Regions from separate parts of the Homo sapiens genome. Here region 2 is linked to region 1. The links come from fine-mapping of genetic effects on gene expression. Tissue or cell type: whole blood. Region 1 holds a variant in brackets; the other region holds the start of a gene. All regions are shown on one strand. Distances are from middle to middle.

What was found. PIP is the estimated chance that this variant, and not a neighbour inherited with it, causes the effect.
Region 2: it holds the start of FGFR2, and the variant in region 1 is fine-mapped to the expression of FGFR2 in whole blood (TOPMed, PIP above 0.99).

The regions. Positions count from the first base shown.
Region 1 is chr10:121,432,114-121,440,218 of GRCh38, reverse strand. No RefSeq gene overlaps it. Among named protein-coding and RNA genes, the nearest start is that of FGFR2, 160 kb to the left of the region's middle. The variant C/T (reference allele first, on the strand shown) is at 4,118.
Region 2 is chr10:121,594,783-121,602,887 of GRCh38, reverse strand. FGFR2 (fibroblast growth factor receptor 2) reads left to right here and starts at 4,444. Exons shown (of 18, transcript NM_000141.5): 1 at 4,444-4,926. RefSeq lists enhancers at 5,238-5,973, 5,974-6,709.

The DNA.
Region 1 (8,105 bases):
GATTTCAATGTATCATTTAATCTTTGATACAGATGGAATTTATTTGGCCATGTGGTGTGAGGTAGGGTTGCATTTTCTCCCCTAGATAATTGAGATATTAATAGTTACTTTTGAGGTCAGATATCCATTTCCCATAGAAAATAAAGCAATAAAAGTTCAATCCTAACATGAGGGAAGCCTAAACCCACTTCATTGCTTGGTCCAGGCTGGGAAGGCCATCTCTGCACTGGAACCAGAGGATGGCCTGTTCTTGGCCTTTCCCAGATGAGGAAGCGTAGAGCAGTGGTTAAGAGCAAGAGTCCAGAGGCAGGTGGACGGAGTGAAAGTGCTTCTCTCTCAATACCTAGTTGTATGACCCTGGTCAAATGTTCTCACCTCTTTAATGTGCTTTCTCCTCATCTGCAAAACAGGGATAATATCAGTACCTGCATCATAAAATGGTGGTGAGAAGTAAACAAAGTCCTGAATGTGAACTGCACTGCACAGTGCTTGGCAAGGGAACACAGGGGAGCTGCTGCCATTATCATTGTCACCATTACCCTCACCACCACTATTTGGACCCTTGGTGATGGCTCCAACCTCAGGCCTGCCATTTACTGATGTAGAAGTGACTGGAAAGTGCTGGCTTCCTTTCCTCTTTCCCAGGATAGAAAGCTGACCTGGGGCTCCTCCACCTGGCCTGGCTCCATCATTCAGACAGTCTTCTTCCAGGGCAGCAAATGACCTCAGATGTTTGCCCTGGGCCACCCAAGGGGAATTTTGGGCTTTCTTTGTGTTCCATCCATTTCTCAGTCTTTTCAATTAAGTGAAATCAAGTAAAAACACAAATCAAGTGATCCCTGAAGGGAGATGAGATCTCACCAGGGAGTACTAGAGAACTACAACCAAAGTAGCTTGGCATGTTGCAGGTGGTAAATGGAGGTTCAGAGTGTGAAAGTGAATATATAACCCCAAATTAATGATTTTATGGTAGACCAGGACCCCCTGGGCCCTGATTCTTTGAGCAGAGCTTCATCTTTGCAACCATGGCTCCCAGCCCCACTGTTTCTTCAGGTGGCAGTGTCAAGGGGAAAGGAGCCCTGGGTCCTTTTTTTTTATTTAAAAAAAATTTTTTTAGATGGCTCATAAAGCCACCTCCTTTTTTGAGGAAGGGGTATGAATCTCAGGGAGGGTTCCTGCTACAAGGCCACTTGGCATCACCCTTGGCTCTGCTTGGAGCAGCCTCCAGGCAGTGACATTTCAATTGCTGCAAGTCTGGAGCTGTATTATGCCATGTGTATCAGGAGAGTAATTGGATAAATTGGCCCTGGAGGGGTTTTGGTAACCATTACTTTCAGTTATTTTGTGATCCCCCCCACAGGGGAAGAGTGGGTCCTTTTCTTCAACTGCAGCATGAAGCAGGCTGTACGCAGCCCCATCACCTACCTCAGCTACAGAGCAGATCCGATGGCCTTAGGGGACCAAAAGCTGGGGAGCGGCTGGGTGTTGTACCTTTGCTTTCTCCTTTCTGCTGCAGGTGAACCCTGTACCACTTAAGCCTGATGTCCATGGCTGTTCTCAGCAACTTCCAAGCATTACTTTCAGTTATTTTGTGACCTTTGATGAGGCAGCTACTTCTTTCTCCTCCCAGCCTCAGATAAGGGATGACACAATTCAGAGAATGAGAGAGTCAAATTCTTGTGGTTTGGGCTTAAAAGGAGAACTAGATGAAGAGTTAGGTTATGGGGTCCCCATGCTCTCAGGACTGGGGAGATGCCCCAGAGAAGCAAGAGAGGTTGGGTTTAGCTGGGTCCTCCAGAGGGGACTGTGCATCCTGCCCAGGACCTGGGGAAATGGTGGTAAAACCAGAAACCCCAGGCAGGTGGCGGGGATCTGCGATCCAGGGCATCCACGCCTCCCATCGCCCGGGGTCTCTGGTTCTGGAGTAGAATGATCTGTCCAGTGATCTTAGGGAGGCTGACCTGAGGCTGCTTTACAGGAGGTCTCTGAATCCAGAGGTGAATTTAATTGTTAGATGACTTAAGGTTTAAACAATTTGAGACCCTCTTTAGAAAACAAAATTAGAAATGATAAATTTCAGATGAGATACAGGCAGTGTCTCTTTTGGGGGTGATGAAATGTTCTGGAATTTGTGTGATCATTGGACACGTCTGCAAATATACTACAAAACACCGAATTGTCCACTTTAAAAGGGTGAATTTTATGGCATGTGAATTAGTTATAATTAAAAAAATATATTGTTAAAAAAATCAAGTAAGGGTTCTAGAAGGGGCCCAACCTGAGAGGGCCTGCAGCAAAGCTTTGCCCACTTCACGGTGCAAACTCTGCAGTCCAGTATGGCTAAGAGTGGCGTGGGCAGAGGGCCAGAGGCAGGAGAGTCCTGCTAGTAGCTGCTGTGTGGACAGATGGCCCCCTTGAGGATCAGATCCTTCCCCTTCTCTGGCCTACCTCCCACAGCCAGGCCCGAGTGAGCCTCCAGGAACTTCCATGCAATCTTGGAGGAAACAGAGTGGGAATTAACGGGGATGAGGCTTCAGCTTTGTGGGATGGGACCAGGAAAACAAAGAAGCCACATGTCTTGTACTCCTGATTTTGACCCAGCCTGTGTATACAAGCTCTGGCTTTGAGGGGCTCAATGACCAGGCCTCTCTCCGGCCCTGCAGCCAGGAAGGCTGACCAGAGGAACCCTGCTTCTACCCCTGTGAGGTTTTTTTTTGTTTTGTTTTTTGGGTTTTTTTGGGGTTTTTTTTTTTTTTTTGGATGGAGAAAATGCCTGCAGTCTGGGCAAACAGACGAGGCTCTTTGGAGGCCAGGGATATGCCACTGTCATATTTATAATATAATGCTTGTTTATCTTGAATCGGACCCGGCTCTCTGCATAACTTCTGTTCCTCACATTTTGAAGATTTGGGCCCAAAACACATTTCAGGGAATAAGGAGAAAGCCCTTGTTTGAAAATGAACCAGCAAAATAAATCATTGTGTTTCTGAAACAATGCCCACTGCATACTTTTCAATTCTGAGCTTTGGCAGCAGCGTTTTTAAAAAGCACACACACAAAACCTATCACATAATTCTTTCTGAAAGGCTCATTCAGCAGGCCTGCCTTTCAGTTCCCAGCCCCCTCTTTCTTCTCTCTTTTTTTCATCTATTTTAAACCAGCCCTTCTGGTGAGAGGGCAAGTGTACATACAGCCTTCCATTGTGTTTGTAAAACAGAGCCATATCAGTTGAGAAGTAATGATAACATTTGTAGTTATGCAAGTGGAGATAACAGTAATCAGATCTCTGCTCTGGGCAAAAAATCCTAGTGGCCAGAACCTAACAATGGGTTAGGGTGTTATGTTGAAAGGTGAGGGAGTTGTGTTTGTGTGTTTTTGTTTTAGCAAAGCACCAAGCCCTTTGTTTTTCCTGCTGGAGGATCTCCTAGTTAAAGCCCTTCCGAAGCTGACCGGTTAAGGAGACCCTTTCCTAAATGGAGATCTGTGGTTCCTCTGCTCACTCGAGTTTTCCTGGCTATTTTTTCTGGCGTCAAGTGATTTAGGGTTTCCTCTGCTTTCCAGCAGGTAATGTGACCTCTCCAGATTAGAAGGAGCTGAGGCTAATGTATTCGCTCAAGCAGAGGCCAGTGGAATGATAGCATCAGTTTGCACTGCCATTTGGGTTTTTTAAAAAGAAAGGTGTTGTTCTGGAGTTGCCCTTATTCTTTCCAAATCTGATTCCCCTGTGGCGGTTTCTGTTGCATTTTTCCTCAAACAACATGCAAATATATTGATACCTGGGAGTTTAAACAACGGCAAGAACTGGAAGGTGCAATTTCCAAGAAATGCCAGGCCCAAAACAGCACCCAGCCGTGTCTGGATTTGACATAATGGAGACCAAGGTTCTCAAAATGTGAGCTGTATTTAGAGATCACGAAGTTAACTCCTGATTAGGTGTTGGATATCTGAGTTTCTCTGCTGGTTGGTTTCTCTGATTTCATTTTGGGGTTGCCATTTACTTATTTTGGTTGGGGGAAGTAGTAGCCTTGGGTTCTCCAGATGTAGCAAAGAATATCTTAGTGTAGACCAAGTGCCCCATCATAGAATGGCTGTCAAGAGACATATCCTGATTCTTATC[C/T]GACTTAGGCAGAACGTTGGATCCACAATAACCGTAATTCTCAATAAAATGGAGGCCCAGATATTTTTGTCTTCTGCTCTGAAGCGTTCCTAATTACATTAGAGATAAAATGCAGGTTTTTCTACTTTTCTTCTGGACACCTGAAGAAATGCTCCATTTTGCTCTCCTTTCCTACTCTTATTTACCCAGAAAAGAAACTGGAAAAAATATGAATGTAGACATGGAATTGCGAAAAGCAGCCACATAATCCATGAATTGCTTAGGGGTGGGGACTGGGGCGGCAGGAGGACTTGTATGAAGAAATCCAGTTCTGTTTTATTTTTCAAAGTTACATTTTCTTCCCTGTCTCCAGACATAAGTTTTTGAATTAAAAATTATACTTTGAATGATGTGCAGATGTTGGCATCTTAAAACCAAATACTGTTGTCCCGTGGGTTGCTAAGCAACCTGTGCAACCAAATCAGCTCGGGTTTGAAAATGGAAACAATTTCAAGAGATAAGAAAATGAAGCCCCATCCCTGAGTGTGAGGCGGAGGGCTGGGGTAGGATGGACTCTTCCCATTGCCTGCCCTGGTTAGAAGTGTGGCTCTTCTGGCTTTTGTGGCTTGAACATGCATTTTAATTTCATTGTGTCAATTCTCATTAACTGTCTATATGGAATCCCCTTTTTGGTTTTCAGAAATAATTAAGTAAAAAGCCCTTTCACTCACTGCATTTTTTGGCATTGATAAAGGCATTTGAGGCATTTCAGACAATGCGGGAGCGAGTATCAGAGCAAGTCTTTGAAGATGTTCTTTAAAGACGGCCCTGACAAACAGTGGCAAACAGACCAATTAACCCCAGAATCTAAGTCCTGGCTGCTTTAAACTCCCTTCAAAAGAAATTAGCTCTAATGTTAATAAAGTGGGTGTTAGACCATTTTGGAACATCAACTTCAACAGACTGAGTCAATTGGAATGGAATTATTACATCGTCTTGCCAAAAGAGGAGCCCAGGGCTGGTGTGAATTTTTGTTACAGTTACTGTCTGAAAATTAGAAAAAAATTCCAAACCTTAGTTGGAACAAAAACTCCCAAGTGGGATAACACAGGTTTATGTAATATTTTTTAAAATATTAGCTTTAAAAAACAAAAAGACTCAGGAAAGGTAGAAAAGAAAATGCCCAGAAGTGTGTCCTCGAATGTTGGGATTTGTGGTTAGAATGAGGATTGCATTCAGGCCCCGGCCCCGCAGTGACACGGCTCACTGCTACTTGGTCGCTTGCGCAGGAAGGCCTGGAGCTCAAGTTGTGACTCCTTGCTGATTTTTCAGATCCCAGGAGAGGAAGACCAAGAGCGGCAGGCTCCCCAGGCAGTGCCAACGAATGGCCGTGGCCTGGGTGCATATCGTCTTGCTTTGATGATTTCTTACAGAAGAAAAAGGAAACAAAAAAATTTTGCTGGGGGAATAGTTTTCATCCACTGGGACCCCATAGTTCGATTTTGCATCGTTTTGGTAAAATGTCCATTTCCAAGGGTTGTGTCTCACTCCTATAATCTCTTTCTTTGAGGAAAGACATAGATCTTTTAATCAATGCAATTGCTAAGAAAAGGTAAGATTTGTAGTGTTTGTCCTGCCAGCGTAACTGTTTGACAACAAAGGGTAGGAAGAAAAACGAGATCACGACTCTTGGGTGGCTGGGAAGTGTGGCAGAAGGGAATGGCATTCTGTGTGACAAGAAGCTCAGAGCACTGGCCTTATTGTCAGATGTGGGAGGAGGGATGTGTCTGGGACCACACAACAAACTCCTCTTCAGCTGTGGAGTGTGAGCCGCTGGGGCCTGGGTGTCAGAACTCAGCTTTAAGGAGCTACGTGGATAGTCTTCACTGATCCTTGTTGCTCTCTCACCACCTTCCCTAGCCAGAAGTGACCCAGGAGGGAAAACAAAGCTGGGAGGCGAAGTCACTTGCTGAGTCACGTGAATGATGTGTGCAGGATCCCAGTCCTCCTGCCTTAGCTGGTCCCATATTCTTCCTCCTGCACAGGGAGCGAGTGTCCCTGAGGTGTCGCCTGCTCAGGGCTTTGAAGCTGGCAATGGTGGGGTCAGGCTCTTGCATTTGTGAACAGGGCTTTTGCTCACCCTCTGCACAACACCCCGTTCTCAGGCTGGCTGTGGGTTAGAGGCTGGGGTCCCTCCTGGTTGGAGGCACTGGGTGGGAAGTAAGACTCTTGCCACTGTGGCTGAGGCCATCTTCCTCCATGCTCTCCACCTCTGCCTTGTCCAACCATGGTCTCTGACACCCAATAAATATGAAGCACTGACTTGGTAAGAAGAGGAAAAACCATCAATGCTAAAAGCATTGACTCTCCCTGTAGCTTTGAGAGGCTTTAAGGTAGTTTTTCTTTGTTTGGTTTTGTTTTTTGAGATGGAGTCTTGCTCTGTCACCAGGCTGGAGTGTAGTGGCGTGATCTCGGCTCACTGCAACCTCCGCCTCCTGGGTTCAAGCGATTACCTTACCTCAGCCTCCTGAGTCACTGGGACTACAGGCGCCTGCCATGACACCTGGCTAATTTTTTGTATTTTAATAGAGATGGGTTTCACCATGTTGGCCAGGATGGTCTTGATCTCCTGACCTCATGATCTGCCCACCTTGGCCTCCCAAAGTGCTGGGATTACAGGTGTGTGTCACCACGCCTGGCCCATTTTTCTTTTTTAATCTAGGAAAAATGAAGATCCTGGTTTGGATTCACTTGGGAGAACTGGGCCATCTTAGTCTCATTTTGGCATCCTTGCCCTTTCTTTGCCTGCTCTGTGGGGGATGCCCAGTCCTCTGTAGAGTGGTTCATCAATTCAGGTGTCCCAAAAGGTGGATTCCTTTATTTAGCTAAATTCTCAATTTAATGTCTATTTTGAACTTCAGGATGGCAGAAATCAATTCTTTGTCAATTGAGAGAAACGTTCCTCTGTTTCTGGGGTTGGGCCTGAAAATACAGGGGCTTATGAGGTCACGGGGCCAGGCCCTTAAGAGTGACCTATTCATGCTGATGTCTACTGAGTCGTCCATTGCCCCTTCTGGTCCATGAAGGTTGCAGCTCAGCTGGCCTCTTTCCCTTTCGTAAGTCTCCCCCAGGGGTAAAGGTTTTCTGTGCCATGTCATGGTGCCAAGGAAACATCTGCTGCCCTCACACCTATCTAAGGAGCCAGGGCTCTGTCTGCCTAGACAAAGTATAGTCATCTTTTTGAAGTTTGGCCACATTCTTGGGTGCTCCACCCAGGACACGGTGCATCGGTTCTTCCACCCAGGGTTCCAGTAATCATTCTTAGATTTTCTCATCTTTCCTCTACACTCATTTCTTAGAGTATGTGTGTATGGGAGTGTGGTTTGGGATTCCTCCTTAAGGACCCACAGTTGTCTCAGTTAACTTGCCTTCTAACTCCCTTTTGCCCAACGTGGGAATCCATCCAGTATCAAGGGCACTCAAACTCCTTGTTCATGCCCCAGTCTGGTCCTCTCAGATCTAAGCTTTTGAGGTTCCCTTTCCTTCTGCTTTCTGACCTAAAAAATTATTACACACACCAGATGCGGTGGCTCACGCCTGTAATCCCAGCACTTTGGGAGGCCGAGGCGGGTGGATCACCTGAGGTTAGGAGTTCGAGACCAGCCTGACCAACATGGTGAGAAACCCCATCTGTACTAAAAAATACAAAAATTAGCCGGGCATGGTGGCAGGTGCCTGTAATCCCAGGTACTTGGGAGGCTGAGGCAGGAGAATTGCTTGAATCCTGGAGGTGGAGGTTGCAGTGAGCCGAGATTGCGCCATTGCACTCCAGCCTGGGCAACAGAGCAAGACTCTGTCTCAGAGAAAAAGAAAAAAAATGGTCGTGTATGGTTGCTCACGCCTGTAATCCCAGCACTTTGGGAGGCCCAGGCCGGGGGATCATGAGGTCAGGAGATCGAGACCATCCTGGCTAACATGGTGAAACCCCCTCTTTACTAAAAGTACAAAA
Region 2 (8,105 bases), 160 kb before region 1:
GAATCACTTGAACCCAGGAGGCAGAGGTTGTAGTGAGCCAAGATCACGCTACTGCACTCTGGATGACAGAGCAAGACTCCATCTCAAAAAAAACCAAAAAACAAAAACAAAAACAAAGGCAAAAACAAAACAACCAAAAAAACCCGAACAAATAAAAAAACAAAAACAAAGAAAAACTAAGTGCTTGTCACGTCCTAACTCATTTCATCCTCTTAGTGATCCTATTAAAGATCTAGGAGAGGCCGGGTGCGGTGGCTCACGCCTGTAATCCCAGCACTTTGGGAGGCCGAGGCGGGTGGATCACGAGGTCAGCAGTTCAAGACCAGCTTGGCCAAGATGGTGAAACCCCATCTCTACTAAAAATACAAAAAATTAGCTGGGCGCGGTGGCAGGCACCTGTAGTCCCAGCTACTCAGGAGGCTGAGGAAGGAGAATCATTTGAACCCTGAGGGTGGAGGCTGCAGTGAGCCGAGATCGTGCCACTGCATTCCAGCCTGGGTGACAGAGTGAAACTCTGTCTCAAAAAAAAAAAAGAAAAAAAAAATCCAGGAAATAAGAACCATTATTTTCCCCATTTTACAGCTGAGAAAATGGAAAACTCAGATAACTCAAGCAACTGGCCTGAGGTAACACAGCGTTTGTTTGTTTGTTTGTTTGTTTTTTTTGAGACGGAGTTTCTCTCTTGTTACCCAGGCGGGAGTGCAATGGCACGATCTCGGCTCACCGCAACCTCTGCCTCCTAGGTTCAAGTGATTCTCCCGGCTCAGCCTCCTGAGTAGCTGAGATTACAGGCATGTACGACCATGCCCAGCTAATTTTGTATTTTTAGTAGAGACGGGGTTTCTCCATGTTGGTCAGGCTGGTCTTGAACTCCTGACCTCAGGTGATCCACTTGCCTCGGCCTCCCAAAGTGCTGGGATTACAGGTGTGAGCCACCATGCCAGGCCTTTTTTTGTTGTTTTTTGAGAGGGAATCTTGCTCTGTCACCCAGGCTGGAGTGCAGTGGGGCGATCTCAGCTCACTGCAACCTCAGCCTCCTGGGTTCAAGCGATTCACATGCCTTAGCTTCCAGAGTATGTGGGATTACAGGCATGCGCCACCACAAGCGGCCAATTTTTGTGTTTTTAGTGGAGACGGCATTTCACCATGTTGGTCAGCCTGGTCTCGACTTCCTGCCTTCAAGTGATCCGCCTGCCTCGGCCTCCCAAAGTGCTGGAATTACAGGCGTGAGCCACTGCGCCCGGCCACAGGTCACAAAGCTATTGAGTAAAGAAAGCTGCATCCAGCCTCTCACCTTAAGAAAGCCATTCCCCTTTGCCTCAAAGTGAGGCTATACTTCCAGAAGGACTTTGTCTCCGGGGAAGCCTTGGCTTTGGAATTCAGGCCCAGTTCTAAGTTTAAAATCATTGATGCTGTTCAGTAGTGGGATCAATGATTTTGCTTCACTTAAATGCCACAAGCTCCCTGAAGATGGGCTGGAGCTGTCACAGCATCCAGCCCCTCCCCTTACCCAGAAGTAAATACTCTTATCATAGTCCTCCGACTATTCTATATCCTTCCATTTGAGTGCTTCTTTTATGCCGAGGGCACTATTGAGATGTAGCTTAGAGAATGAAATTCCTGGTGTTGCAGGGAGCTCAGATCCACCCGGGAAGGTTCATGAGCACTTCATGTCAGCAGCCTTTATTTCATCTAACGTTTCCATAGAGTGAAGGAACAGCCACCCATTACAAAACAAATTATTAAAAGAAAAATTCCAAATCTTCAAAGGAGAGAGGCCCATGGTAGTGAGCGCTCCCACCCCCTTCTCCTTTCTCTTCCCATCACCAACGGGCTAGCAGCACAATTTGTTTCTTGAAACTTTTGGGGGCATCGGAGTTCTGGTGTCCTCATTTTTCTTCCTTCCCATTGATGTATCATTACTAGAGTGAAAAAAGAAGGGCGTCTCGAGGGCTTTTGAAAAAAAAAAAGGGTGACTACTCAAGACATTTTGTAAAGGGGGGAAAATTGCGAAGAAAAGAGACCTCAGTAGGGGGTGGAGGAACTGTGAATGTGTCCTTGTCTGGCGGTTCTTTCAGCTGAAACCTGGTGCTGGCGTTCGCAGTTCAGTTCAAACTGTCACCTTTAGTTCTTACTGGCTTTTCTGCCCTTGCCCCAGAACCTCAACAGATTGGGGCTTATTTACCTATTCACACTCCGCCGTGGAAGCTCATTAATAGGCTTTATTAGCAACACCATTCATGGGAGGCCATTGACGAAAGGGGTTCCAGCCACTTGAAGAGGGAAGAGAAAAGAAAAAACTGTAAAGAGATTATTTTCTCATTCAGAAGCCTCAGTGGTGTGAAGGTTTTCCTGGATGGTCTGAGGTCACTTGAAGACTAAATATGGGGACATAATTGATTTTTTAAAAATAATTCTAAACATACTTCCCCCCCCTCCTCAAAACTGAAGAGTTTCCTGTTGTGGTCTTGTGGGTTTCAGTCCCTTATATATGAGCCCTCTTTAGGGAATAAGGAGCTTTTGATAGATTGGTGTCTTTTCATTTCTATAAAAAATACATTCTGCAAACTGTGCCTGGACATGAAAGTAGGTGTTCTTATTTGTCATTTTCAGCGGAAAGCTTCCTTTCCATTCAACATGCATAAAGCTATTGATGAATGGGGGATAGGGACAGCGGCTTCCTGCACCATTAATTTATGTGAGAATGTGTTAACAGCATTTTCAATGGCTGATGGATGCGGTGTAGGATGGGAAAGGAACTGTCCTGAGACACTCGAGTTTCCCATTGGTGGGGAATATAAAGATGTAAGTGGCAACCTGCGAGCAGGCAGACACGTTCAGCTGCATCCCTTTTCTGAGAACTTGAAAACATACTGCTATCAGAACAACCCGTGTGGGAGTGAATGGCTAAGTGTCAACCTGGGCTGAGGTGTCCGTTAATGTATAGGCTCTGGGGCTAATCCAGGTTAGAGGACTTGACCAAAAACATACCCTCCCACCAAGCATATAGAGGGATAATTTTGCTTAAGAACCAGTTTTTATTTTGTTGCTATCAAATTTCCAAAATACAATGTTATAGCCTTTTGCCTGAGGCAGTTAAATGGATTTCTTACTTGTGTGGCTTTTAAATAACTTGCATAAACGTTTTCTGTGCTATATTTGTGAATAAAAATGATTTTCTAATCATGTAGCACCTTGAAAAATATTTTTGTAAATGTTATGAAGGGTGCAATGTTAGTGACACAGGTGCAAATATGTTTCTAAATCCAGGAAAAGTCTGTTTTCCAAGTCAGGTTTGTTCTCAATGCTTCATCTATCTTCAGGCCTCAAAAGGATTCTAAAGCATTTCTGGGTTTAGTGACCTTTTCTAAAGAAAAATAATTAAGGTTTTAATCTATATGGTCTTGAACTTAAGCACGGCTGCTCAGGAGCTGGATGAATAAGGAGGGAGAAAAAGCATATTTAAAATAAATTATTCCGAAGACACGGCTTAGTGAAAAGGTAAATGGACATAGGAACTTTAACCAGTTACAGCTTGGTGTGCAGTTGAAGAATCAGATTTTGCATTTATGATTTTTAATCTAAGATTCAGAGGGAGGAATTACTTTGTTCAAGGTCTATTTATGGTAGAGTTGTCTTTAGACTCCTTTGAATTTCTTTTTATTAATCCAAACATATATTATTAAACACTTTTTTTTTTTGATGCAATTTTGGCTTTTTCTGAGAGAGCCACATTCAAAGTCAGGCTGTCCTAGTAGCCAGCTGTGTGGTCCTAGGCAAATTACTTAACCTCTCTGATCCTGTTTCCTTATCAGAAACTGGGAATAGTACTCTGCAGGGTGGTTGGGCAGATGAAATAGAATCACCTATGTAGTGTGACCCTCCCATAGTAGGGCCTCCATTAATATTCAGTTTTTTCCTCTCATTTCTATTGTTTAGAAGGACAGAAACATGCAATGTCCTGCGAACATTTCCAAGTGGCTTCCTCTCCTCCAAAAGCTTCAGCTGCCTGGCAACCCTCCCCGCAGTATCAAGCAGGCGCATTTTAAAGTCTCTTTAGCGGGAGGGCAGGGTTAGAGCCTTCGGTCATTTGTTTTCTAACTTGACATAAAACAACGTAACGCAGTCGCTCAGCGAGCCGTTGGCCAGCCTCGCTCGCCCGGGGAGGAGGGAGGAGGTGGCGCGGGGCGCGGGACCAGGCCTTATTCGGAGGCTGTCGCTGCATCCCTACGGCCGCATCGCGGCCGAGCCCTCGCCTCCCGGGCCGGTGTCTCCGGCTGCTCGGAGGCGTCGGGAGCCGCGCGGGACTCGGGGCGGCCCGGGCGCGCGGCGCTGATTGGCAGAGAGGGCGCCGCCGTCCAGGAAACGGCTCGGGTTTCAGTGGGGGCGTGACCCGCCGCGAGGAGGCGGGGGCGGCGGCGGCGGCGCGGGCGGCGGCTGGAGGAGAGCGCGGTGGAGAGCCGAGCGGGCGGGCGGCGGGTGCGGAGCGGGCGAGGGAGCGCGCGCGGCCGCCACAAAGCTCGGGCGCCGCGGGGCTGCATGCGGCGTACCTGGCCCGGCGCGGCGACTGCTCTCCGGGCTGGCGGGGGCCGGCCGCGAGCCCCGGGGGCCCCGAGGCCGCAGCTTGCCTGCGCGCTCTGAGCCTTCGCAACTCGCGAGCAAAGTTTGGTGGAGGCAACGCCAAGCCTGAGTCCTTTCTTCCTCTCGTTCCCCAAATCCGAGGGCAGCCCGCGGGCGTCATGCCCGCGCTCCTCCGCAGCCTGGGGTACGCGTGAAGCCCGGGAGGCTTGGCGCCGGCGAAGACCCAAGGACCACTCTTCTGCGTTTGGAGTTGCTCCCCGCAACCCCGGGCTCGTCGCTTTCTCCATCCCGACCCACGCGGGGCGCGGGGACAACACAGGTCGCGGAGGAGCGTTGCCATTCAAGGTAATCGCCGCGCAAGACGCCTCGGGGAGCTTCGCCAGCCGGGGACGTGGGCGCCACGGGAGCCCGGGACGCCGGGTGCACCGTCCTCCGGGCGGGGGGCGCGGAAGGACTAGCATTGTGGAGGACGCTCCGTGTCCTCCCTCTGTGGCTGCATAGGTGATGGGGGAGGTGGGTGCGTGCTGACGGCCGGCGTTCTGGAAGTTCTGCCTCTGCTACCCCCATCCAGATGCTGACATCTGCTTCTGGCGTTGACGCCCCCCTCCCTGTCAAACCCTGGCGGGCGCATTCCCGCTGACTGGGCGCGTTTCTCCGACCCCAGAGCAGACGGGCGGAAGGTTCGCCTGCCCGTGGCACAGCCCCGCAGGCCGGTTCCCGGGGTCATCTCCGAGGTGCCCCATCCGTGTGTCCTGGGAACTTCCGTACCATCCAGGCCCTGCGGAGACCCCTTTTTCGGGAGGGGGCCGCTGGGGTGGGGCCGGTGACATCCCGTAGGGGTGGCGATGGCCAGGGGTGGCACTGCTGGGGAGGCGACGGCTCCGGTGCCTGGGCGCCCCTCGCCCGCAGCCGCCGTCGGCGCTGGAGGGAGCGCAGTGCGCCTGGGGCTAGGGGGCGAACTGGACCGACTTTTTCTAGTTCGCCTGCCTGCTCTGCCGCAGCGGCTGGGAGATGTCGAAAGCGCAGGCGAGTTCTAACTTGCGCGCTCATTTTTTTCGGCCACGGGGCCGCGCTGGGGAAAAAAGCCGAGGGCCCTGCGTGGCGCTGGCTCCGACCCTCGCGGACCACGGACCTGGCGCAGGAGGCCCGCTCGGGGACCACCAGCCTCCGTCGCTCTCCTCGCACCCCGCTCCCTTGCAGACCGTTCTCCAGACCCTCCTTCCTTTCTCCCAATTCAATAAAACCTACCCTTAAAGGCAAACCTGCTTTCAAACTCAGGGCACCCATTATGTGTTTGGTGTGAAACGCTATCAACATTTAAAACTCCATTGTCTCCCTGGTCCCAAATCCCTGTAAATCTTCCACCGGGCTCGACTCATTTTCATCTGAAAAGCCTGTTTAGTTTGAATAGAAAAGCAATCAGGCGCCCCTCTCTCTTTCCCTGGAATGTCAATTAAAATGCAGATTTCTCTGAGCTCTTTAGCGCCCCGAGAAGGGGGAGAAAAACAGGATATTTCAGGCAAACAAATGAAAGAAGTGCTGCCCTGAAAGGGGGTGGTGGTGGGGAGCACCCCCAAGCTGCTCGCAAGTTCTGATTGGACGCAAGCATTAAACCGGGAGGGCTTTGTGGTCCTGGGTCAGTGTGTGTTTTTTGAGATTTCAATTTGTTGAGGAATTTCCCCCTAGCCTTGACCCCTTGACAGCTCCCGCTCCTACTCAGTGCTGGGGAGAAGTAGGGAGGCCTTAAGCGAAGAGATGGGTCTGCACTTTGGAGGAGCCGGACACTGTTGACTTTCCTGATGTGAAATCTACCCAGGAACAAAACACCAGGTGATCCCAGTGGCCGAGCCAGCAGTGGACAGATCACCCCTTAGGTGGAAGCCCAAAGCGGAGGGCACTGTATTGGTCTGCCTTCTTGGAGGGCGGGGGTTTTGGGAATGTCATGGTAAATTGAAGAGCCCAGCACAGGCCTGGCATGGGGACCGCTCCGCAGCCAAGCCCTTCCTGCTTGTCACTCTGCCTGTCTTTGGGGGCAGGCTTGTGCCGAGGTGAAAATGGACCGGGGGGCGGGCGGCCGAGAAGAGCCATCCATCAGAGGGAGGGTGACAACTCCTCCCGCGTGCAGGCTGAGAAGAGAGTTCCCTTTCAAGGGGAAAAATAAACACGCTGGGGCTTTCACTGGGGCTCAGACTCCAGGAAGGATTATGGTATTGAAGGCAGGAAGCCGGGATTGTGGCCGCCAGCGGCATGCTGGGCCTGTATTCCCAACACCGAGCCTGGGGACCTAATTATCCTGCCTAGGAGGTCGCACCATACTTTTGTCCACTGGTGTGAGGAACTGTGCAGACCTGTCGCCTTAGGTCTCCGCCTTCCAGAGTTTTGGGGAGGGGGCTGCCGTGGGGTTTGGACCTGGAAATGGCTGAAATGCAAATTTCTAGTGCCAGCTAGCGGGATGATGGAACGGCTTGAGATTCAGCGGAGCGCCCTGTCCACCTTTCTCTGCCTGGAGCCAAGGAGGCTCCTCTGGGCAGGGACAGGTGGGCGAGCAGGCCGGGGAAGGAGCCTGGGGTGAAACCTCTGCGAGGACTTAGGATTGTTCCTGAAGTCGTGTTAGAGGTAGAAAATTCCCCTGCATTCTGCAAATGCTTAGTAAATCAATGAGAATGTTTGTGTACTTTCCTCCCACATGTATGTAGAAATAGATCCGAAATTATCTTCTGAGGCTCTTGACTAAGAGGAAAGAAAAGTTAAGAGGAAAAATCTTTCAAGCTATCTGAAAGCACATGCACACACCGTGCACGCACACACCATGTACACACACACACCGTGCATACACACACACCATGCACGCACACACACCGTGTACACACACACACACTGCACACATACTTTTCTTGCTTTTGCTGTGAATCACACCGTTTCACCTGTGCTATCTTTGAAGCAGAGGTTTTCTTTATTCCTCCTTTGGAAATGATGTGGCATATTCTTTTCCCTCCTCCATTTTTGTCCTCAGTCAAAGCTAAAAGGAGCAGTTTTTATGATGAGATTTGGGGAGGCTCCAGCAGTGTTGAAATCCTATGACATAACTTGAAACATCGAGTGGGTACATAAAAAATGTAGAGTTTAGAGATTTTTGTATTAAAGGCCTCCCTGCCACCCCCAGTCTTAGAAAATGTGGTTCATTCCTGTGGTTCACAGAATCTGAAGCCTGAGATTGATGAGCCCCTTCTTGTGATTGTTTTAATCATTCTCTAAAGTTTGTGCATTTTACTGTACCCTTAGTCACAGAGAGTACTGAGTGAATTTAAAGTTGCTTGGAATATATTAAGCTTTCTTGGAAAATTCTCTTTCCCTTGGATCAAATGGGTGAACAGAATATTAAGTTGAGTGTCCTCTTCTAACTTATACTCTGAAAATTTAGCCAGTAGGTTTGCATATGGAAAGTTATTGGTCCAATCACATACCATGACTATAATTTACATAATTTACATCATCATTATTAATAAATTCCTGCATTATTCATC